6 separate regions of the Homo sapiens genome follow, and all the other regions are linked to region 6. Evidence: fine-mapped expression QTL. A gene starts in region 6. Each other region holds a variant in brackets. All regions are shown on one strand. Distances are between the middles of the regions.

What was found. PIP is the estimated chance that this variant, and not a neighbour inherited with it, causes the effect.
Region 1: its variant is fine-mapped to the expression of BCL2L13 in activated naive CD4 T cells (Schmiedel 2018, PIP 0.95).
Region 2: its variant is fine-mapped to the expression of BCL2L13 in whole blood (TOPMed, PIP above 0.99).
Region 3: its variant is fine-mapped to the expression of BCL2L13 in whole blood (TOPMed, PIP above 0.99).
Region 4: its variant is fine-mapped to the expression of BCL2L13 in whole blood (INTERVAL, PIP 0.98).
Region 5: its variant is fine-mapped to the expression of BCL2L13 in cerebellar hemisphere (GTEx, PIP above 0.99).

What each region holds. Positions count from the first base shown.
Region 1 is chr22:17,606,318-17,610,317 of GRCh38, forward strand. The region is part of intron 4 of ATP6V1E1 (ATPase H+ transporting V1 subunit E1); the gene reads right to left. Among named protein-coding and RNA genes, the nearest start is that of ATP6V1E1, 20 kb to the right of the region's middle. The variant T/C (reference allele first, on the strand shown) is at 1,581.
Region 2 is chr22:17,682,491-17,686,597 of GRCh38, forward strand. BCL2L13 (BCL2 like 13) reads left to right here. Exons shown (of 7, transcript NM_015367.4): 3 at 724-831. Among named protein-coding and RNA genes, the nearest start is that of BCL2L13, 46 kb to the left of the region's middle. The variant T/C (reference allele first, on the strand shown) is at 2,222.
Region 3 is chr22:17,729,786-17,733,892 of GRCh38, forward strand. BCL2L13 (BCL2 like 13) reads left to right here. Exons shown (of 7, transcript NM_015367.4): 7 at 1-1,070. Among named protein-coding and RNA genes, the nearest start is that of MIR3198-1, 32 kb to the right of the region's middle. The variant C/A (reference allele first, on the strand shown) is at 1,657.
Region 4 is chr22:17,689,427-17,693,533 of GRCh38, forward strand. The region is part of intron 4 of BCL2L13 (BCL2 like 13); the gene reads left to right. Among named protein-coding and RNA genes, the nearest start is that of BCL2L13, 53 kb to the left of the region's middle. The variant TTG/T (reference allele first, on the strand shown) is at 1,932.
Region 5 is chr22:17,724,495-17,728,601 of GRCh38, forward strand. BCL2L13 (BCL2 like 13) reads left to right here. Exons shown (of 7, transcript NM_015367.4): 7 at 2,183-4,107. The coding sequence ends at 3,040. Among named protein-coding and RNA genes, the nearest start is that of MIR3198-1, 38 kb to the right of the region's middle. The variant A/G (reference allele first, on the strand shown) is at 2,353.
Region 6 is chr22:17,636,586-17,640,692 of GRCh38, forward strand. It overlaps BCL2L13 (BCL2 like 13), which reads left to right and starts at 2,172. Exons shown (of 7, transcript NM_015367.4): 1 at 2,172-2,301. RefSeq lists enhancers at 437-1,309, 1,310-2,181, 1,734-1,783, 1,834-2,013, 2,134-2,413 and 1 more.

The sequences.
Region 1 (4,000 bases), 30 kb before region 6:
AAGTAAAAAGTTTAGAAATAGCAAAATCCACTCAAAGCATGTATGTGTGCTTTTATGCAGATTGAATCCTGTTTGATCGGTATCATTTCACAGTCTGTTTCCTCAACTCTCCACATCTCTTATTTACAGGGTTCAATGACGGCAAGAAGTTAAGACTGTAAGCGGTTAAAAAAGAAACAAGTATCTTTAGAATAACTGAAATTACATAAATGTTTATCTTCTCAAAATTCTCATTATAAGTCAGAGAAATAATATAAAAGCTCAAGCTATATACTGAATTCAAGTTGCATGCAACAGTATACTTGGATTTGTTCCAAAAGAGATTAAAACACACAGCCCAGCTTGTGAACAGGCCACGCACGCTGCCTTCAGCTCCTCACCTCACACGCACTTCTCCCTTCTCATGCCATAACAATCTGGCTTTCTGCCTTCATCAGTCCAATGAAACTGCTCTGGCAAATGTGAAAAACGACATCTTGACTGCCAAATCCAAAGACCACCATGCTCTTCCCACTGTCATTCTCTCAAACATTGAACACTGTATTAGAGACCATTTTGAGTTTGCCGTTCCCTTGGCTTCTCTGTATTCTCCAACATAACTGCTTTCCCCCACATTTCCTTAGCAATTTATTTTCTATTAAATCTGATGCTTCTCAGTTTTTTTGGCCCGCTTCTCTTCTAATTCTCCATCCAAAACCACAGCTCCAGCAGGGACTTCTGTGTTGTCTCCACATAAGCTCCTCTTCTCTCCTAACAGACTCATAGAGCTTCACCTGGAATCCTAAGGCAATTCAAACACAATGATTTTTTTCACCATTCTTTACCTGTTCTTCCTATATTTCTTTTTTTTTTTATTTTTGACATGAAGTCTCACTCTGTCGCCAGGCTGGAGTGCAGTGGCGTGATCCTGGCTCACTGCAACATCTGACTCCCTGGTTCAAGCAATTCTCCTGCCTCAGCCTCCCAAGTAGCTGGGATTACAGGCACCCCCCACCAGGCCCAGCTAATTTTTGTATTTTTAGTAGAGATGGGGTTTCACCATGTTTGCCAGGATGATCTCGATCTCCTGACCTCACGATCTGCCTGCCTCGGCCTCCCAAAGTGCTGGGATTATCTTCCCATATTTCTAATCTTCATTCCATCTACCAGTTGCCTAGACTACAAACTCTTATGTCATTCTTGACTCCTTTGCATTCACTCATCACAACTGTAAGTCACCAAGTCCTACAGATTCCTACCTTTTTAGGATCTCTGGAATAGGCCTGTCTTCTCTTTCTGCTGCCACCATTCTACTTCTCGACCTGGAAGGTAAGCCATACCCTCCTTGTTTCTACTCCACATGGTCACCAGTGGGGTTCCTCTAACACAAATGTAACCATTAAACACTATTTCTCAAAGTGTGGTTCTCAGACTACCTGCACCAAGATTACCCTGAGCTGCTGGTTTAAATGCTGACTCCTGACTAGAATATAAAAGTCTCTGGAAATGGGAATGAACATCTGCATTTTAACAAGGTCCCCCAGGTGATTTTTATGCCCATTAAAGTTAGAGAATTAGCCAAAAGGATGAAGTCCATATTC[T/C]TCAGCAGACACTCAAGGCCCTTCTAATTAGACCCTAATATGTGGCCTGTTCTCTGCCCACTCCCCACTCTGCCAGACTACCTCTGTTTCCCGCACATGTCAAATTCAGGTCTCGGTTTTTCACTCACACTGCTCTCTCCATTCTGTATCCTATCCCATGACTAATACTTCAAGTCATGCTCAAACAGCTGTAGTGGAGATGTATTATCTTGTCCAGGTCCTATTAGACTGCAGACTCCTAGAGGGGCCAGCACGATACAGGACACATGGGATAAATGTACTGTTAAATTCAAACAGCTTAGTGCCTCAAGGGAACCCAACTGAGTTATGACATGAAAACAGAAGAGTGACAACTGAGGGATAACATGAGTACCAAAACCAGAATTTTGTTTGCAACAATTTTAAAGTCAGCAGACAAACTCAGAGTGACTAAATCCGGGAAAGACATGTGGTATGAACTGAATGACTGCTTTGTCTTTCAAGGTCATAAAAAGAATTATTTTTCTCTAGCCCATTTCTTTTTGTTTCTATTATTTATTATTTTTAGAGACAGGGTCTCCCTGTGTCATTTATGCTGGAATGCAGTGGCATAATCACAGCTCACTGGAGCCTCAAACTCTTGGGCTCAAGTGATTCTCCCATCTCAGCCTCCAGAGTAGCTGGGACCACAGGCATGCGCTACCACACCTTGCTAATTTTTAAAAATTTTTTGTACAGACAGGGTCTCCCTATATTTATCAGACTGGTCTCAAACTCTTGGCCTCAAGCCACACTCCCACCTTGGCCTCATAAAGTGCTGTGACCACAGGCATGAGCCATGGCACCTGGCTAGCCCATCTCTGAAAGAATATGATGGATTACTGTATTTTGGAAAACTATCCTAAGTTGAAATTAAAACACATTCATTGGCCGGGAGCAGTGGCTCACGCCTGTAATCCCAGCACTTTGGGAGGCCGAGGCGGGCAGATCACGAGGTCAGGAAATCGAGACCATCCTGGCTAACACGGTGAAACCCTGTCTGTACTAAAAATACAAAAAATTAGCCGGGCGCAGTGGCGGGCGTCTGTAGTCCCAGCTACTCAAGGAGGCTGAGGCAGGAGACTGGCGTGAACCCGGGAGGCAGAGTCTGCAGTGAGCTGATATCGCGCCACTGCCACTGCACTCCAGCCTGGGCGATAGAGCGAGACTCCGTCTCAAAAAACAAAACAAAACAAAACAAACAAACAAACAAACAAACAAAAATTCATTCCATACAACTGCACTTCCTTTTTTTTCCTTTTTTGAGCGGAGTCTCACTCTGTCGCCCAGGCTGGAGTGCAATGACGGGATCTCAGCTCATTGCAACCTCCGCCTCCCGGGTTCAAGCAATTCTCCTGCCTCAGCCTCTCGAGTAGCTGGGACTATAGGCGCCCGCCACCACACCCAGCTAATTTTTTTGTATTTTTAGTAGAGACAGGGCACCACATTGGCCGGGCTGGTCTCAAACTCCTGACCTCAAGTGATCCATCCGCCTCATCCTCCCAAAGTGCTGGGATTACAGGCGTGAGCCACCATGCCCATCCTGCTCTTTTTTTTTTTTTTTTTTTTTTGAGACGGAGTCTGGCTCTGTCACCCAGGCTGGAGTGCAGTGGTGCGATCTCAGCTCACTGCAAGCTCGGCCTCCTGGGTTCACGCCTTTCTCCTGCCTCAGCCTCCCGAGTAGCTGGGACTACAGGCGCCCACCACCACGCCCGGCTAATTTTTTGTATTTTTAGTGGAGACGTGGTTTCACCGTTGTTAGCCAGGATGGTCTCAATCTCCTGACCTCGTGATCCGCCCGCCTCGGCCTCCCAAAGTGCTGGGATTACAGGTCTGAGCCACCACGCCCAGCCCCACACTTTCTTTTAATATCCTCCACCTCAAAATTTGAAAACCACTGTGTGTCATGAGAGATGTTACTAAAATGTAAAATAACTGTATGAATATTCCAGAGAGAAGGGAAAAAAGTTGAGAAGCACCGATATTGAAGTATTTGATAAATGAATGAATGATCTGAATTTTAGGTGTCAAGTTTTCTTATCTATGCCACTTCAAATTTTCCCTCTGAGGCCAGGCATGGTGGCTCTTGCCTGTTATCCCAGCTACATAGGAGGCTGAGGTGGGAAGGACTGCTTGAGCCCAGGAGTTTGTGAGCTATGACTGCACCATTGCATTCCAGCCTGGGCAACATAGCCAGACCATGCCTCTTAAAAAAAAATTCCTTCTAAAAGCCAACTAGTAATTATTTATATATTCTAATAGATTTAAGGCAGCTTACAGAAGTATATCTAATGAAAACGTTAATTACGTTTTTTAAAAAGCAAATTAGAAAAAATAACTAATAAAATATAAACAAGTGGATTAAAAAATTAAAGCAAAGAGAAAATAAGGGCAATAAATAA
Region 2 (4,107 bases), 46 kb after region 6:
ACCACTGAAATATTAATAGCATGAATTCTTTTTGTTTTTATCATATTCCATCTTCATACTTTTTAAAAAGGATACATTGTCTACAAAAAGAGAGGACTGGCCCGACTTATTGATACATCTTTCCCAACCTCCTCTTGAGTTAATGTGTTTCTGAAGATTCAGCTCAATTTCCCTGTTTCTGGCAGAAACATCTGGAAAGGTGGAGACTTACTCACTCTCAATCCATAGGCCCAAATATTTCTACTAAAGGTTGTTTTTGATTTTTGTTTTTTAATTATTGCAAAAAGGATTTCCTCCCGTCCCTAATTTTGATAATGAATTTTGATTTTGCATTTTTTGGCTTAACAAATTGCTATTGTAGGGCTGGGTGCAGTGGCTTACGCCTGAAATCCCAGCACTTTGGGAGGCCGAGGCAGGCGGATCACAAGGTCAGGAGTTCGAGACCAGCCTGGCCAACATAGTGAAACCTGTCTCTACTAAAAATACAAAAAAATTAGCCAGGCGTGGTGGCAGGCGCCTATAATCCCAGTTACTTGGGAGGCTGAGGCAGGAGAATCGCTTGAACCTAGGAGGCAGAGGTTGCAGTGAGCGGAGATCATGCCATTGCACTCCAGCCCCAGTGACAGTGCGAGACTCCGTCTCAAAAAAAAAAAAAAAAGTGCTATTATATTCTAATGGTTTCTCTCTCCCTCTTTCAATAATAACCTTTTTTGTTGCTTTCAGGGGTTCAACTAGATATAGCTTCACAATCTCTGGATCAAGAAATTTTATTAAAAGTTAAAACTGAAATTGAAGAAGAGCTAAAATCTCTGGACAAAGAAATTTCTGAAGGTCTGTTTATTCTTATTTTTCTAGTTAATAAGCAGATTGTGTTTGTTATGGTTTACTGTTGGTTTAATTTGATTTTTACAGTGGGGTATTCTCAACAGTTAACAACTTACACCAATTATACATTGGTAGAAGTTTATAAGGGTAAAACTAGAAGGTAGCCTTTTTTCTTTCCTGGAGGATATGTTGATGGAAGTTCCCCAACTATACCTAACAGGTTAGATGTAGCAGTTTCTCATGTTAAGTATCGGATAAATGATCATGTTAAGGTTCTTTCCATTCACTATGGTTTGATTTGTATTTAGTATTACCTTTATAAGTAATAACGACATAAAAAGGAAAAAGTAAGCATACGCTTTTATTTTTGCATACATATATACTATAGATAACTGTAATTATAATGTACATTCAACTTTATAGCCATTTTATTTTGCACTTAACATTACAACATAAACTTTAAAAATAGTTACTCTACTAACTGCGTGAAATTTCATTCACTGAATAAATGTTTTTACTCAGTCATTCCATTATTATTATTATTATTATTATTATTATTATTATTATTACTATTTCAGAGACAGGGTCTTGCTCTGTTGCCCAGGCTGGAGTGCAGTAGTGAGCACTGGGATTACAGGTGTAAGCCACCATGCCTGGCCTGTTCCCTTGTTATTGAGGGGAGCATTTGGATTATTATTCCTTTTTTCACTGGACGACGACTACACAGCATTTGCATTATTTCCGGTTTTGTCTTCCATAGGTAATGCTGCACTGAACATCTTACCCAATGATATAAATATATTTTTACAGCTTTATTGAGATATATTTTACATACCATAAAATTCACCCATTTAAAAGGTCCAGTTCAGTCTGGGCACAGGGACTCATGCCTGTAATTCTAGCACTGTGGGAGGCCAAGGCCTCAGGAGGGTTGCTTGAGCCCCTGAGTTCAAAACCACACTGGGCAACATAGGGAGACCATGTCTCTATTTATTAAATAAATAATAATAATAATAAAGTACAATTCAGTGGTTGTAGTGTATTCACAGAATTTATCACCATGATCTAAATTTAGAACACTTTCGGTTCTCCTTAAAGAAACACAATACACATTAGCAGCCACTTCCCATTCCCACTAGCCCCAGGCCCCAACCCCACCCCACACCAGGCACCCACTGATCTCCATTCTGTTTTTATTGATTTGCCTATTCTGGAAATATACATAAATAGAATAGTTCACTATGTGGTGGTGGTGGTGGTGTTTTGAGATGCAGTTTCGCTCTCATTGCCCAGGCTGGAGTGCAGTGGCACCATCTCGGCCCACCACAACCTCCATCTCCCAGGTTCAAATGATTCTCCTGTCTCAGCCTCCTGAGTAGCCAGGATTACAGGTATG[T/C]GCCACCAAACCTGGCTAATTTTTTGTATTTTTTTTTTTTTTGACAGAGTCTGGCTCTTTGCCCAGGCTGGAGTGCGGTGGCGGGATCTTGGCTCACTGCAAGCTCCGCCTCCTGGGTTCAGGCCATTCTCCTGCCTCAGCCTCCCGAGTAGCTGGGACTACAGGCGCCTGCCACCACACCCGACTAATTTTTTGTATTTTTAGTAGAGACGGGGTTTCAGCGTGTTAGCCAGGATGGTCTCGTTGATCTCCTGACCTTGTTTTCTGCCCGCCTTGGCCTCCCAAAGTGCTGGGATTACAGGCATGAGCCACCACGCCCGGCCTGTAATTTTTTGTACGTTTAATAGAGACAAGGTTTCTCCATGTTGCTCAGGCTGGTCTTGAACTCCTGACCTCAGGTGATCCGCCCACCTCGGTCTCCCAAAGTGCTGGGATTAAAGGCGTGATCCACTGCGCCTGGCCACTATGTGGTCTTTTGTGACTGGCATTTTTTACTTAGCATAATGTATTTTTGTTGTTGTTGCTGTTTTTTAAGACATCGCCTTGCTCTGTTGCACAGGCTGGCATGCAGTGGCATGATCTGGGCTCACTGCAACCTCCGACTTTAAGGTTCAAGCAATTCTCCAGCCTCAGCCTCTTGAATAGCTGGGATTACAGGTACCCACCACCACGCCCAGCTAATTTTTGTTTTTAGTAGAGACGGGGTTTCACCATATTGGCCAGGCTGGTCTCCAACTCCTGACCTCAAATGATCCACCTGTCTCGGCCTCCCAGAGTGCTGGGATTACAGGCGTGAACAACTGCACCTGGCCGACTTAGCATAATGTTTTCAAGGGTCATCCATGTTGTAGCATGTATCAGTACTTCATTACTTTTTACAGTCAAATAATATTCCACTGTGTGGATGTGTCATATTTTGTTTATTCATTCATTAGTTAATGGAAATTTAGGTTGTTTCTACTTGTTTACTATTATGTATAATGCTGCTGTGAATATTCTTGTGCAAGTTTTTGTGTGGACATATATTGCCCAATAATTTTTTCTTTTTCTTTTTTTTTTTTTTTTTTTTTTTTTTTTTGAGACAAAGTCTCGCTCTGTTGCCCAGGCTGGAGTGCAGTGGCGGGATCTCGACTCACTGCAAGCTCCGCCTCCCAGCTTCACGCCATTCTCCTGCCTCAGCCTCCTGAGTAGCTGGAGCTACAGTGCCCACCACCACACCCAGCTACTCTTTTGGTAATTTTTAGTAGAGACGGGGTTTCACCGTGTTAGCCAGGATGTTCTTGATCTCCTGACCTCATGACCCGCCCACCTCAGCCTCCCAAAGTGCTGGGATTACAGGCGTGAGCCACCGTACCCAGCCTGCCCAATAATTTTTAATGATCAAAATTATAAATTATGTTCATAACTCATGTTCCTCGTTAGTAGAGAAAAAACACAGATAGAAATGTACAAATAATCCCGAGACCAGGTGCGGTGCCTGTAGTCCCAGCACTTTGGGAGGCTGAAGTGGGTGGATCACTTGAGGCCAGGAGTTTGAGATGACCCCAGCCAACATGGTGAAACCCTGCCTCTATAAAAATACAAAAAAATTAGCCAGGCATGGTGGTGCACACCTGTAATTCCAGCTACCTCGGAGGCTAAGGCATGAGAATCTCTTGAACCCAGGAAGCATAGGTTGTAGTGAGCCAAGATCATGCCACTGTACTCCAGGCTGGGTGACAGAGTGAGACCATTTAAAAAAAATGAAATGTACAAATAATCCTGAAACCTAATGTTAGTCTTGTCTTTTATATTTCTTTTTTTTTCTTTTTTTTTTTGAGACAGAGTCTCGCTCTGTCACCCAGGCTGGAGTGCAGTGGTGCGATCTCAGTTCACTGCAACCTCCG
Region 3 (4,107 bases), 93 kb after region 6:
TTTCCATTGGCTTTCTCTGGTAGCTCTTGGTCAGCTCCTGAGTTAACAGGATGTGGCAGCATCCCTGTTCTTCCTTCACGTCCTCACCCTCTGCCTCCAGCAGTGGAAGGGAACAGCCCTCATGAGGACTGCTTCCTACTGCAGCTCCTGCTTTTTGCTCATACATTTAAAAAACTATTTCTCAAGCTTCCCCTCCTTTTGGGGGGAGGAGCTGATAGTAGGAGGCCATTCCTTCCACCTCCAACTTATACCCTCTAAGTCTAAGGTGAAGGAAAGATTCAGAATAAATCCAACTTGTTTATAGAAAAGTTCTTGTTAGTCCTTAGACCTCATCTCAACTGCTCTGTTGAAGGTAATGATTTATTGGGGGGAAAAAACAACGCCAATTTATCCTCTCTGTATTAAAGTGATAATTCTGGGCCCACAGAAATCAGTCAGTACCTGCGGTGTGCCTTAAGGGGACTCTCATGATCATCATTCCCTTCTAGAGAACATTCTAGATGAAGAAATGCAACTGTTGACCTTCTGGTTCACCCATCTCCCCCTCGAGGCATTCTTGATACCCCTTCTCACCTGCATTTCTGTCCCAGGGATACCAGATGCAGCCACTACCTAACTAGGCTTGTCCTGGGGGAGTGAGCCGTGAACCTGGAGACATGGCTTTGACCCACAGCTACTGTTCATTTCCTCAGGCTTTGCGCTGATTCCCTCAATAATATGACAGTAAGGCAAGTAGTCTCCTTGCCTTTCTCCTGAAAGGTATGAGATGTGGACATTTCAGTGTTTGAATTATTTTAAGAGATGTTTTATAGAAATAAAACGTTTTGTAGCTAAGAATTTTCCCTTTCTCTTAATTTCTTACATCTTTCCACACAAACTTATCTTTCCAAGAATTTGAGGTGGTGATCATACCCATCAAGACGGCCTTGTAGGCTATCTGATTGCTAACAGACACGACCTAGAGCTTCTGCCCAAATTCCCACACAAGCATTATCTCGTTTAACATCTCAGCGACATACTGGATACCAGAATAATGTTTCCTCTTCTCTGGTGCACCAAAACCTGCCCTTAGTGATAATCTCTCAATTATGACATTCATTTGAGTTTAGGGTGTATAATTTTTCCTAAAAAAAATTCATGTCGATAATTATATTTTAGCAAATACTAGTTGAGCATTTATAACATGCCAGAGACGGTTCTAGTGCTCTCACATACCTTATTTCACCTTCACAGTTCTAATAGCTGTTTGTATTCCTTTTATTCCCATATTACAGAATGAAGAACCTAATCAGAGTTTGTTAGTTTTTCTTTTTCCTTTTTTTTTTTTTTTTTTTTTTTTGAGACAGAGCCTTGCTCTGTCGCCCAGGCTGGAGTGCAGTGGCACAATCTCGGCTCACTGCAAGCTCCGCTTCCCGGGCTCACGCCATTCTCCTGCCTCAGCCTCCCAAGTAGCTGGGACTACAGGCGCCCGCCACCATACCCGGCTGCTTTTTTTGTATTTTTAGTAGAGACAGGGTCTCTACTATGTTAGCCAGGATGGGCTCGATCTCCTGACCTCGTGATCCACCCGCCTTGGCCTCCCAAAGTGCTGGGATTACAGGCGTGAGCCACCGTGCCCGGCCCAGAGTTAGTTTTTCTAACGTCCTCAAGCATAGG[C/A]GAGGCAAGGCAATGATTTTGCCGGTTTTTATCATTTTCCTGGCACTGCAAAGCAGTATTGGCAGGTCCCCTGCAAACAGTTGCGCCAGTTGTTTACTGCATAAGGACTGACTGGGGACAAATTCCGACGTGCAGCCTGTGCTCTGCTCACCATGCTGTGGGCTCTGGGAGAAGCGAAGTATTTTTCTAATTTGTACAAAGGCACCATATAGGCTCACTTAAACATTAAGCATGTTCTACTACAAAAAAACAAGAGTGAGGGTTAGGTCCAGGACTGGTCTCAGCTTCCAATTATGTAGCTGTTTTCCCTGTAGACATTGAGTGAGATGCTTTGTGGTTACAGAATTCACAGTCATTGCCGATGAGCTTTCATTAGCTTTCTTGATTAAATATTTTTGCTTGTAGACAAGGTTAGGCAATCTGTCCCAGCAGTTATCACAAAGTGCTAAATGAGGGGGGTGAAGACAGCACCACGATGCATTTCTTGGTCTTTTTCTGTTTGTTCGAGTTCGTCCCTTCTCCCCTGTGTATGCCATCATAAGGGTGGGGCTGTGGAGTGAAGTAGGGGAATACCTGGAAGCATTGCTTGGCCTCTGGACAGACAAAGAGGTTGGGGACTTAGGAGGGTTGACCAGGTATGGCCACAAGTACGTCAGCTCCTGGAGGATCTTCCCAGTGAAAAGCCTCCTACTACATTCCACAGCACTTCATGGTAATTATAACCTTGGCTAGATAATACCTGCTGTATGGTACAGAATAGTGACATTCAATTACCTCATATATAAAGAGAGCTCCATGGAGAGCTGGAAAGTGCATGCCACTACAATATTAACACATCCCATCTTCCCTTTCTTTTTGCAAGGCTGTTGAATTTCAGCCCGGCATCCCCACACACTAACACCATCAGGTCTTCCACATTTGATGGTTACACCACAGGAGCCCACACCAGACTGCTGCTTCCCTGTGAGCTCAGAGTGAAATTGTTCTCAGGGGTATTTGCAAGGCCTTGTCATCAGTTAAAGACTAGCAGCTGACTCCAGGTGATTCTACCCCGCTGTCACCTCTCCAAAGGGGAAATTGAATAGTGGTATTGCTCACTGTGGTGAGTGTTCTTTGCACCACCAGAAGAAACTGGTTAATGAATGTACTATTTAGAAGAAAAGTTTTGACATTTAAAGATTACTAGTTGTTCCCTTTCCCCAGGAAAAGAAGGTCAAAGTACAGTCTTCCCTGTTGCAGAGTTTGGAATAACTCTGTTTGCCCTGATGCTTTCCAGCAGGAGAACTGTATTATGTAGAGGGGTCCTTGGCCAGCATCAAAGGAAAAAAATTATTTTTTTCCTAGACCTGTATTTTTCCTATTACAGTCTTCCATTTATTTCTTCCTCCAGATTAAAAGTGCCTCTTCCTACCTCATTCCTTAATTAAGGTCAATTTAGTGTTGGCTCAAATGCTTTCATCTCAAAAATACCGGAATTGAATGGTAATTTGGATAATTAAGTTATCGTGCATTTTAAGCAGCATGTGTTTCCTTTTTCCGTGTGAGTTCCATGAGCCTCTGCACTGCCGCTCTGCACTGCTGAACTGATCACTGTGGGTCATTCTGGCTCCTCTTCCTTCCTGTCATCTACCTTTTGGCCAATCTACTCTTCATCAGGGGAAAGGAACAAACTTCAAATCTGTGAGTTATTCTTTCTGTCAGAAGCAACGTGCTAGAGAGAATACATGGGATTTGAAGATAATCAGTGGACTCATCTTTCTATCCACATGGTAACTATGCCCTTGACAGGTGGTATCATTTCACATCATCAATTGTCTTTGTTAAGTCCATACTTAATTGGTTTGACTCCAGGTTTTGAAAACAAGATCGTAACATTCAAAGGACTCTATATTCCAATTCTCAGCTAGCACAACTAATAAAGTTGCTGGACAGTAAAACTAGGCGCCAGTGCTGTGATCCTTTAAGGAAGCCTTGAGTATCGCAGCAGTTAATGCTGGGTCCTAAGAGGAGAGGTCAGGAATGATTTGACCTTCTGAATGCACCAAATGTCCCACGTGACTTTCAGATACACCAAGCATCTTTTCAAGGAGAAAGCTTTTGATGTTTAACAAAAGAATTTCCATCACTTAATTCAAATATTTTTAAAACAGAAAGGAAAACACATTCTCTGAATTAAAGTCACCTTTGAATCATATCCACAAGGATTGTGTTACAGGGCAAAATCCACCAACTGCCAGGATATGCCCGAGTCACCATGGCTGGGAAGTGCTCAAGACTGGAACATTTGTGTTTGAGACAATGGAATCTTTTTATAATGTTGGCTTTGGGAGAAGGGGTGACGGTCTTGCTTTACAACCAAGACTATCTCAGACTTGGTCTGGAAGAATTTACACTAAGACCTGTTATAAAATGGTGGCCTACTGTATGAATTCAAGTGAAACAGAAGCAGGT
Region 4 (4,107 bases), 53 kb after region 6:
ATTTCACTTCCCCAGACCACTTTTTACTGCCATTTCCTCTAGTCGTGACATGAATATAATGGCTAGCGTTTTGTGCGTTGTAATGTGGGATTAACATTATATCTGTATTTTAGAATTCTGTATTTAACATTTTATTGACCGGGCGCGGTGGCTCACGCCTGTAATCCCAGCACTTTGGGAGGCCGAGGTGGGCGGATTATGAGGTCAGGAGTTCAAGACCAGCCTGGCCAATATGGTGAAACCTCGTCTCTACTAAAAATATAAAACTTAGCCGGGCATGGTGGCGCATGCCTCTAGTCCCAGCTACTCGAGAGACTGAGGGAGGACAATCACTTGAACCCGGGAGGCAGAGGTTGCAGTGAGCCGAGATCCTGCCACTGCACTGCAGCCTGGGTGACAGAGCGAGACTCCATCTCAAAAAAAAAAAAAAAAAACCCAAAAAACCGTTATATCTGTATCCCAGAAGTTGCTCAACTTTAGGGTTGCACATCTGCCAATGGAACTGCTTCTACATTCTTATAGAAGGAACTTCTCTCCTAGCTATGGTTCTGACCATATTAAAGCTAAAGGCAAGAAGCTAGTAATAAGGAAAGTATTAAAATAGAACCAAATCATTTATTATAAATATTAAAAATCAGCCTGTAATCCCAGCACTTTGGGAGGACGAGGTGGAGGTATCACTGGAAGTCAGGAGTTGGAGACCAGCCTGGCCAACATGGTGAAACCCCATCTCTAGTAAAAATACAAAAATTAGCTGAGCATGGTGGCAGGTGCCTATAATCCCAGCTACTCGGGAGGCTGAGGCAGGAGTATCGCTTGAACCCAGGAGGCGGAGGTTGCAGTGAGCTGAGATCATGCCATTGCACTCCAGCCTGCATGACAGAGGGAGACTCCATCTGAAAGAAAAAAATTTTTTTTTTATTTTCCTGTAAGCAAAGTATATATCGATTACCGTTTGTTAGAAGAAAGTAATTTGGGTTTTAGGAGAATTTGATTTTTTGTTGCGTAGTATTGTGAAATGAGCAAATGTAAAAATACTAATTATGCTTAAACAGTGAAATGAAATCGTATTTGGTAATCTCAGTACTTTGGGAGGTCCAGGCGGGAGGATTGCTTGAGGCCAGGAGTTAAAGACCAGCCTGGGCAATATAGCCAGACCCTGTCTCTACAAAAAAAATGTTTAGAAAATTAGCCAGTGTGATGGCATGTTCCTGTAGTCCCAGCCACTTGGGAGGCTGAGGTGGGAGGATCACTTGAGCCCAATAGTTTGAGGCTGCAGTAAGCTATGATCACACCACTGTGGCACTCCAACCTGGGCAACAGAGCAAGACCTTGTCTCTAAAAATAAAAATTAAAAAAGTCGTATTTGGATTTTCTTAACCTAATATATAGTAAAATTTAAATATAAATATGGAGAGAAGTATATGGGTGTTGGGAAATAAAACTTACACAGGAAATTTGGATTTACAGCAGTTGTTTTCAAAAAGTGTTCTATGGAGCCTTAGGCATAGAGGTGCTGCAGGGGTCCTGAAGAAGTGAGGGATAGTAAGTGGGTTAAGCTCATTAGGGCCTCTCCACTCTTCTTTCTTTTTTATTTATTTATTTATTTTAAATTTTTTGTAGAGACAGGGTCTCACTATGTTACCCAGACTAGTCTTATAACTCCTGGCCTCAAGCAACTCTCCCACCTCAGCCTCCCCAAAGTGCTAAGATTACAGGTGTGAGCCATTGTACCTAGCCTTATTTATTTATTTTCCCACTTTTCTTAACCAGAGCACGTGTACTTTCATATATTTTATATTCTGAGGTTACATCTAAGACTTGAAGAAAGAAATTTGCTGCTTCACTCCTCTCTCCACAAAAATGTAAAAGTTATCTGGACCAGGAGTAAAATAATGAAGTGAAAGGTGCAGACTTTTAAAATAATCTTT[TTG/T]TCCTGGCTGGGCGCGGTGGCTCACGCCTGTAATCCCAGCACTTGGGGAGGCCGAGGCGGGCGTATCACGAGGTCAGGAGATTGAGACCATCCTGGCTAACACAGTGAAACCCCGTCTCTACTAAAAATACAAAAAATTAGCCCAGCATGGTGGTGGGTGCCTGTAGTCCCAGCCACTCAGGAGGCTGAGGCAGGAGAATGGTGTGAACCTGGGAGGCGGAGCTTGCAGTGAGCCGAGATTGCACCACTGCACTCCAGCCTGGGTGACAGAGCAAGACTCTGTCTCAAAAACAAAAAAAAAAGAATCTTTTTCCAAATTTGATACAGACTTTGGCTTGGAGCAAACCATGTCACCCTTAATATTTCAGTTCTCCATGTGTTAATTTTAACTTTATGGTGTAGTATAAGCTCTTCAAAAAACAGTGTTATGTAAGTTTTTAAAAGTATTGTTTCTGAAGTCCTTTTTATGATCTACAGGAAAAATTGATGTCTTCTCACAGCAAATTCTATTTAAAGGAGAATTGGCTTGGACAAATGTTTATTTTTTTCCCAAATCTTGATAGAATTATTTTTGAAATTGGTTATGTATCAAAGTCAGGTCTCTTTCTTTTTTCAGAAATCTGTTTTTAGAAGTTTTAAGCTCTGTTACTAGTACTTTGAAAATAACTAATGGATGATAAACTACATAAACTAGAAGTATTATAAACGTTGAAGGCAGTATCGTAAGGTAGAAAATACCACTGATTCCTCCAAAAGGTTTTGTTAATGTAGGAAGTTATTGCTGAACCCTTCTTACAGAAGAACAACAGCTGTTTCAAAAAGGTATCCTGCCCCGCTCTTTTCTTCTTTGCTCTATTCTAATAGCTCACTAGGTAGGATTGGTTATTTAGCTACTTACTTTTCTATGTATTTGATTTCCTTTGAATGTTTTAATCTGCTGCATTTTTTGTGCATGTATGTCTGTGTATATGATGTTTCAAATCATGTTTCATTCAGAACGATGCTAAAATACTTTAGCCTGGTAGACAAACAACCAGTAAGGACTACTGTGACCCCCAGCAGCACCAAACAGTTCAGGAAAGGAAGTGAGGGGACTGATATATGCAAGTAAAGCTTCAGGGAAACTATAGGTAGGTAGACTGTGTAGTATCTGCTGAAGTTCAAGGTTTACACGAATCTGCTACTTAGCCCAAGGCATCTGAAAAGTACTAGGCTCACTTTAATGGGAAGGTGATGCCAGGAAGATAGCATATGCTGTATACATTTCATCATTACAGAGGCCATCTCTGGTATCTCATTTCCTTTCAGCATCACTGTAGTATTGATTTGATACAGACTTAGGTGAAAGAATGATGCCTGTGTCATCAGGATTCTTTTCTGAAATATCTAGACCAGTGCGATTCAATGCAAGTCACATATAATGTGGTTTTAAAATGTAATTAAAAACTAGCAGCCAAGTAAAAAATAAAATGAAATGTAAAATTTTTAATATTTTATTTAGCCCAGTACATCTAAAATATTTCAACATGTATTCAGTACAAAAAATTATCGAGCTATTTTGGATTGTTTTTTCTTCCTCATTGAAATCTAGTGTGTATATTATACTTTCAGCACACTGGCCACGTTTCTAATGCTCATTAGCCACATGTGACATCGAGACATTGTCATGGCATGTGTCAGAATCTTAACTTGAAATGGGAGTAGTATAATGGCCTTTGATACCAGATCTGAGTGTGAATTCCTGCCTTGCTGCTTTCCGGCTATGTGGGTTTGGGATAATTTCTTAGCTTTTCTGAGCTTTGGTTTCCAAATATGTGATATAATAATATGTAATATAAAATATAAATATATGAAATATTAAAACCTAACATAATAAGCTACCAGTAAGTGGTAGCTATTATCAATCTTAAATATTCTTAAACTAAGGAAGTCATAGGTCACAGTGGACAGAGCAGAAAAATGCCTTTGGGGTAGTTTATTTATTTATTTATTTATTTATTTATTTAGTGTTTGTTTTTTTTTTTTTTTTTTTTTTTTGGAGACGGAGTCTCGCTCTGTCACCCAGGCTGGAGTGCAGTGGTGCAATCTCGGCTCACTACAACTTCCGCCTCCCGGGTTCAAGCAATTCTCCAGCCTCAGTCTCCTGAGTAGCTGGGATTACAGGCATGCGCCAA
Region 5 (4,107 bases), 88 kb after region 6:
CAGGGCCTCTGAAGTGGCTGGAGCAAGGGTCGAGGTAGAAAGTGGTGCAGTATGATGCCGACATCATGGTCGTGTGATTTATTTGTATTTCTTATTTCCTTTTTTATGGGGCTGATAGACTTTTGATTTATGTTAGATCCTTGATGTATGTAGAAAGTTTTTGGTTTTGGTTGAAGAATGAAATTATCCTACTTCAGTTGAATAGCAACCATAATCATAAAATGAAGTAGAAATTAATTTGCTTTACATATTCCATTCAGATTCCCTGTAGCTTTTACGAGTGTTGTCTAGCCTTTGTATGACAATTTCTGTACATCTCTGTGACATTCCATTCCATTGGTTCTCTTCCTGTCCTTTTATTGCGCCTTACCCTCTGGGTTGGCCTAGCCCCTTGTGCATACACCTGTCATAAAGCTTTCTGTATCATATTGAAGTTAGTTATTCATATGTCAGGCTTCACAGCTGCCTAGTAAATTCTGTAAGAATAGACCCATTCTTTCTCGTAGCCCTTGTGCCTGACACAACCCTGATAAGCAGTAGGCACACGGTGGCCTGTTATTAATAGACATGGACACAAGGCCTGTGCTGTAGGGCTTTATTGCTTTCACTCAGACTTCCTGACAAAAGAAGCAAGAGTCTCCGTGTCTGCAGCATTTCTCCATTCTGTCTCTGCCATCAGAGGAATTTTAAAGCAAAGCTCTGATTATAATTTTGTACCTCAGAGATGTCAGTGACAAACCATCGCCTGTTGGATAAAGTCCATATTTCTTAGCTGTCATTCAGGTTCCTCCATGGTCCTGTCCTCACTGACCTTCTATTCTTCATGGGCACTCTGCATTAATTAAACAGGGCTCTGTCCTTATCTTCTTTTTTTTCTGTCTCTGTGCTTTTGCCTGCATTGTGTCTTCTGTGTACCCTTCGCCTGCCAAAATCTTACCCATTCTTCAGATGTCTGATAGAAATGCTAGTCCCTCCGTGAGGCTTTCTGTGATCTCCCTGCTTTCTCTGACCTCTACCCAAAGAGGTCTTTTTCCCATCTGAACTTTTTTTCTTCTTCTTCTAAGGAAAGCAACACTGCCATATGAACTCTTAATGGCACTTGGACTATGACATAGCATTATTTGTATACCCTACTAAGTGATAAATTCCTTGAGCACAAGGTCTTGCCTTTGTTTTCTCTGCTGTTTTGCATTAATTACTGCATTGAACATACAGGGTGAGTATCCCTTATCCAAAGTGCTTGGGATCAGAAGTGTTTTGGATTTTAATTTTTTTTTTTTTGATTTTGGAATGTTTGTGTGTATGTGATGAGATGTCTTGGGGATGGGAAAGCCCAAACATGACATTTACTTCTTTTTGTATGCACCTTATACATATAGCGTGAAGGTAATTTTATATAATATTAATATATTAATTTACAAATATACAATATTTATAACATAAATATATATAATATTTTGTGTGCATGAAGCAGATTTTTGACTGTGTTTTGCCTGCAACCCACCACATGAGGTCAAGTGTGGAATTTTCCACTTGTGATGTCATTTCAGCACTCAAAAAGTTTCGGATTTTGGGCCGGGCACAGTGGCTCACGCCTGTAATCCCAGCACTTTTGGGAGGCCAAGGCGGGTGGATCACTGAAGGTCAGGAGTTCCAGACCAGCCTGGCCAACATGGTGAAACCCCATCTCTACTAACAATACAAAAGTTAACTGGGCGTGGTGGCAGGTGCCTATAATTGCAGCTACTGGGAAGGCCGAAGCAGGAGAATCGCTTGAACCTGGGACGCGGAGGTTGCAGTGAGCTGAGATTGTGCCACTGCACTCTAGCCTGGGAGACAGAGCAAGACTCCATCTTAAAAAAAAAAAAAAAAAAACCTCAGATTTTGGATCATTTCAGATTTCAGGTTTTCAGATTAGGATGCTCTCAGCCTGTGTGTGAATTACACTGAATGTATATTAACTTAGGATTTTTTAGTTTCAAGGAGACTGCTCAGAAGACTGTCAAAAATTCTTTCTCTGCATTGGCCTACAAATACATGCATTCCATTCGGAAACTATGTAGGTTTAAACAGTGTTTCATTCCTAGAACTTCAGTTTAGGAAAGAATTTGCTTTCCAGATTGATGTTTATGTTTTAAATAGTTACCATTCTTTATTATTGACGCTTGTCCTTCGTTTCTAGGGCACTGTGTTTAGTCTTGAGTCAGAGGAGGAGGAATACCCTGGAATCACTGCAGAAGATAGCAATGACATTTACATCCTGCCCAGCGACAACTCTGGACAAGTCAGTCCCCCAGAGTCTCCAACTGTGACCACTTCCTGGCAGTCTGAGAGCTTACCTGTGTCACTGTC[A/G]GCTAGCCAGAGTTGGCACACAGAAAGCCTGCCAGTGTCACTAGGCCCTGAGTCCTGGCAGCAGATTGCAATGGATCCTGAAGAAGTGAAAAGCTTAGACAGCAACGGAGCTGGAGAGAAGAGTGAGAACAACTCCTCTAATTCTGACATTGTGCACGTGGAGAAAGAAGAGGTGCCCGAGGGCATGGAAGAGGCTGCTGTGGCTTCTGTGGTCTTGCCAGCGCGGGAGCTGCAAGAGGCACTTCCTGAAGCCCCAGCTCCCTTGCTTCCACATATCACTGCCACCTCCCTGCTGGGGACAAGGGAACCTGACACAGAAGTGATCACAGTTGAGAAATCCAGCCCTGCTACATCTCTGTTTGTAGAACTTGATGAAGAAGAGGTGAAAGCAGCAACAACTGAACCTACTGAAGTGGAGGAGGTGGTCCCCGCACTGGAACCCACAGAAACGCTGCTGAGTGAGAAGGAGATAAACGCAAGGGAAGAGAGCCTTGTGGAAGAGCTGTCCCCTGCCAGCGAGAAGAAGCCCGTGCCGCCGTCTGAGGGCAAGTCTAGACTGTCCCCCGCCGGTGAGATGAAGCCCATGCCGCTGTCTGAGGGCAAGTCTATACTGCTGTTTGGAGGGGCTGCTGCTGTTGCCATCCTGGCAGTGGCCATCGGGGTAGCCCTGGCTCTGAGAAAGAAATAGGAGGCTTTTCAGAAGAGAAAGACAGAAGGATGTAAGGTTGGAGTTGTATTGGCTGGAATTTGAACCTCCAGCAGCTGTCTGGACATTTGTGGAACACTCTGGGATAATTGGGGACTTCTGCTCAACATGGCAGTGGCATGTTAGGCATGTTAGGGCTTGAGGTGGGGCATTCACATTCATCTGACTGTAAATCCCAAGGGCCTCCGCTCATGCTAAATTGAGAATCTTAGGGGTAAAGCACCCCCTCCAGGACCGGGTTTCTCAGCCTTGGCACTAGTGCTGTTCTGACCATTCTCTGTGTTGGGGCTGTCCTGTGTGTGGTGGGCTCCACCCACTAGATGCCAGTGGCACCCCCTCCCAGAGATGACAAACGAAAATGTCTCTAGACATTGCCAAATGTCCCGTGTGAACATCCCCTATTGAGACCCACTGCTTTAGCGAGAGAGGGTTTACTTAGGAAGAATTGGGATAGAAATTCCCAGCTGAGAGAACTTAGCTGTGGGCTCCTCAGCTACTGACTTCTTAGCTCTTAATCCCCTTAGAATTTCATCTTTCTCGATGAGCAGGCTCTGCACCCACTCTTTTTTTGCCCCCCGCCCTCATCCTGGAGTGTGAGGGTGCTCGCCCGTACTCTCAGCTGCCTCTCAGGGACTGCACTGTTCCTCTTCACCCCCAGGTTCCTGCTAAGATCCCACGGGCGAGGGCTTGCTCTGGACTCAGTCTGTCAAGTCCCCGAAGCTTCCTGCAGCTCCACCTTGTAAAAATGCTGCCTTTGGGAATCTTCGAAATATGTACACAGAGAAAATCACATGAAGGAGACCTGGGGTCCCCACTTGTGAGTGCAACTGCAAGTAACTCTGGCTAGAGAGACACATGTGTCTTGTGTCAAGGCAGGAGGATAACCTGGATGACCTTCTGAGGTCTCTTCAGCCCTTTTCGCTAGTGGTCACCCACCACCATGGTTACTTGCCAGCAACATCTCTATTGCTGGATGGTCCCTGTCTATAACCTTGGGCTAGTATATTTTTTCCAATATGGGACCTTAGTCTTACTACTGATGAGTTCTA
Region 6 (4,107 bases):
GGAGACCAGCCTGGCCAACATGGCGAAACCCTATCTCTACTAAGAATACAAAAAAAAAATATTAGCCAGGTGTGGTGGTGGGTGCCTGTAATCCCAGCTACTCAGGAGGCTGAAGCAGGAGAATCGCTTGAACCCAGGAGGTGAGGTTCAGTGAGCTGAGATCGCGCCATTGCACTACAGCCTGGGTGACAGAGCAAGACTCTGTCTCGAGAAAATAATAATAAAAAATAAATAAATAAATAAAGGAAAAGACTGAGAGCAATGTGAAAGAAATGAACTTAAGTATGTACCAAATTGGTAACATAAGTACCTCCCAAAATAAATTATTGCATGTTACATTTTTGAAAGTTTTTTTAGGTAAAGTGTACATACAGTGAACTGCACAGACCTTAAAAGTAAAATTAGGGCCGGGCGCGGTGGCGCACCCCTGTAATCCCAGCACTTTGGGAGGCTGAGGCAGGCGGATCTCTTGAGGTCAGGAGTAGGAGACTAGCCTGGCCAACATGGTGAGACCCCGTCTCTATTAAAAATTTTTAAAAAGCCAGGCACGGTGGCTCACGTCTGTAATCCCAGCACTTTGGGAGGCCAAGGCGAGTGGATCACCTGAAGTCAGGAGTTCAAGACCAGCCTAACCAACGTGGAGAAACTCTGCCTCTACTAAAAATACAAAAATTAGCTGGGCATGGTGGTGGGTGCCTGTAATCCCAGCTACTTGGGAGGCTGAGGCAGGAGAATCGCTTGAACCCGAAAGGCAGAGGTTGCAGTGAGCTGAGATCGCGCCCCTGCACTCCAGCCTGGGCGACAGAGTGAGACTCTGCCTCAAAAAAAAAAAAAAAAAGTCTTCATTTTTGGTTACCCATTTCACTGCAACCTTTGCCTCCCAGGCTCAAGCGATTCTCCTGCATCGGCCTCCCAAGTAGCTGGGATTACAGGCGCGTGACACCATACCTGGCTAATTTTTTGTGTTTTTAGTACAGATGGGGAGTTTCACCATGTTGGCCAGGCAGGTCTGAAACTCCTGACCTCAAGTGATCCGCCCACCTTGGCTTCTCAAAGTGCTGGGATTACAGGAGTGATCCACCACACCCGGCCTGTACTATTAGTTTTCCAAGGTCACTAAGCCTTTCCTTTGCAAAACTTTATGTCCCTATTAATGGCACCATCCTTTCCTCAGTCACTCGGGCTTAAAAAGCATCCTGTGGCACCAGCCCCACAATAGCAGTTCAACTCTTTTATCACTTCCTTTAGAATAGCCTTGTTGAGATATAGATCTCATAACATAGAATTCACCTATAGTGTACAATTCAGTAGTTTTCAGTATTTCAAAGAGTCGTGCCACCATCACCCCAAAAAGAAACTCTGTATCCACTGGCAGTCACTCCCCATCAGGATTTTATCACTTCTGATCTGGCTCAGTCTTCTAACTCCTTATTGTCAATGCCCTCCTTGTTCCAATTCAGTACACACACCACGGGCAATTTGATCTCCCTAAAACACACTGTATCCTCTCTCCTAGATACCTTCCGATACTCCTCCAAAGAACTCTCGGATTCAAGTAAACAAACATCCATTAATACAAGTTAAGTATGTTCCAGGCGCTGTGTGTTCCAGGTACTGTTAACAAAAGCGGGTTACTAGTTAAGACTTCCTTCATGCCCTGGCGCCTCTGCTCAGCCAGTTCCCTTCGCCTAGGAGGACCTCTCTACACCACCCCGCTATATTCCCTCCCCGGAATTCCTTCCCAACCTTCAAGGACCATCTGCCCCAACTAGTGGCGAACATCGAGGCTGTCGTGACTGTGTAGATACTTATTTGACCTGCTCCCTTGGCAAACACTTGAAACGCAATACATGTTTGTGGAACTGAACATAGCCTGTGCATGCAGCAAGGCTTCTTTCCCTGGAATCGCCTGCCCTTCCTCCAACACAGCGACCAGCCGGTCAGAATCCCAACCCCTCGACTCCGGAAATGATCTGAGAGACGGAACTTCCGAACGTCGCAATCAGATTTGGGCGGGCTAGGAGGGTTTGGGTCTTCAGGTCACATCTGGACGGAGAGACCTCCGGGGCCTCCGTTGGTCGGTCCTTCCGCTCCGGATACCGTTCCGGATGTCAGGTAGTTCAGGTCCCGCCCCGACGCCGGCCGTGACGAAGGCACGCCGGGGTGACCTCACCCTCCAACATGGCGGCGGCGGTAGATTAGGGCCGCGGGTCGGAGCACTCACCGCCGCTGGGGGACCCTGTCGGAAGCAACTGCCGCCGCCGCCTCTTTCATCTCTTCTGGGGCAGGGGCCAGGGCCAGGTGAGGGGAGTGGGGTTCCGGGAAGGCTGAGCTGGGTGAGGAGGTGGTTTTCACCTGGGTAGGAAAGTGCCCAGAGACCGTATCGAGCCACCGACTCCCCAGTGGTTCCGACGACGCGTGAGTTTGAGTGTGTGTGTCTACACCGGCGCTCCTTCGCCCGAAGGTGCTCGGAGCTTAGGGGTCCGCTTCACCGTGACCGGACCTGGCCGCGCGGCCCCGCCGCTGAGCAGGCTTCTTCCGGCGTGGGGTGCCGGAGGCGGAGGAGCTCGGCCCTGGCTCCACGCCGCTGTCCTTCCCCACAGACAGCTTCACGTGGAAAACCCGGGTCCATTTTTAGGGCTAAACTGGGGAACGGCGACTTCTTTTTGGTTGAGGGAAAGGTTTTCCTGCGATTCACTTAGAACACTGGAAGATTAGCTTTGCCAGTCTTAGTCGTTTCTTCTCAGAGATTGTTAGAAGTCTTGTTTCTTAACCTTAATTCACTGCTGTTCTGACACCTATTTTTTCAGAAAAAAACTGCCTTCTTGCCCTTGGAGGCAGTACAGTTCACACGGAGTCATTTTCCCCCTTTGATTTATCCTCCCAACATTCTGTAAAGATCCTATTTCTTGCCTTCATAACCGACTTTCTGAGTGGAGGCTCTAACCTAGCGTTGAAAATCGGACGGATCTGGCCAGTTGTTCACATGCTGTTGACTGCTGGCTTTGGTTAGCTCTTAGCCACTCCCTGCACAAGTGTTTGTTTATTCAAAATAGCTATCTCACTGTCTCTGTTTAGAAGTTTGAACTAAGCTGAGAGCCCTCCCTCCTTACTTTTATTTTTTTGTTGTTGTTGCGTAAAACAAAACAAAAACTTCTTTGGCGAAATTATAAGATTTCCTCTGGAGGTTTAGTATAAAGCAGAATGTTGCTCTCTGCCCTGACTAGTGTGACCTTGGATGAGTTGCCACACCCTTCAGATACCTTCTTTCTTTTTTTTTTTTTTTGAGACAGAGTTTCCCTCTTGTTGCCTAGGCTGGAGTGCAATGGCGCGATCTCAGCTTACCGCAACCTCCGCCTCCTGGGTTCAAGCCATTCTCCTGCCTCAGCCTCCCGAGTAGCTGGGATTACAGGCATGCGCCACCACGCGGGGCTAATTTTGTATTTTTAGTAGAGACGGGGTTTCATCATGTTGGTCAGGATGGTCTCGAACTCCCAATCTCTGGTCATCCCCCCGCCTCAGCCTCCCAAAGTGTTGGGATTACAGGCGTGAGCCACCGCGCACGGTGATACCTTTTTTTCAACCACCCCCGCGCCACCGCATGAAGTATTATTTTCATTTTTAACACCCTCTCTCCCCCAAGTGAAGTATTCTTCATTTGGTAATAGGCAGTTAAGGGTATTGAAAATCTTTTTACTAGGAATGGTCAGGTACTGTTCTGTATTTTTTTTCCAATGGCTCATTTTTTATGTGGAAGAGTATATTCAGTAGTTGGATTCACTTTTTATTTTATTTTTAGTTGTCTCCTACAGCAAGGACCAGTAGTTGAATTCAATTGAAAGATGCCTAAGGCTATATCTAACCAGTCTTGTAAAAAAACAGACTTGTGTTTACTAGCACATAATCTAATCAACATGTATTAAATATCACACACATTAAGCTTTTAGGACAAGTGGTTTGCAACAGTAATAATCATTAACAACATTTCATTTGGCTGTTTGCGATGGCTCACTGTAATCCCAGCACTTTGGGAGGCTCAGGCAGGAGCATTGCTTGAGCCCGGGAGTTCGAGACCAGCCTGGGCAACATAAGGAGACCTTGTCTTCA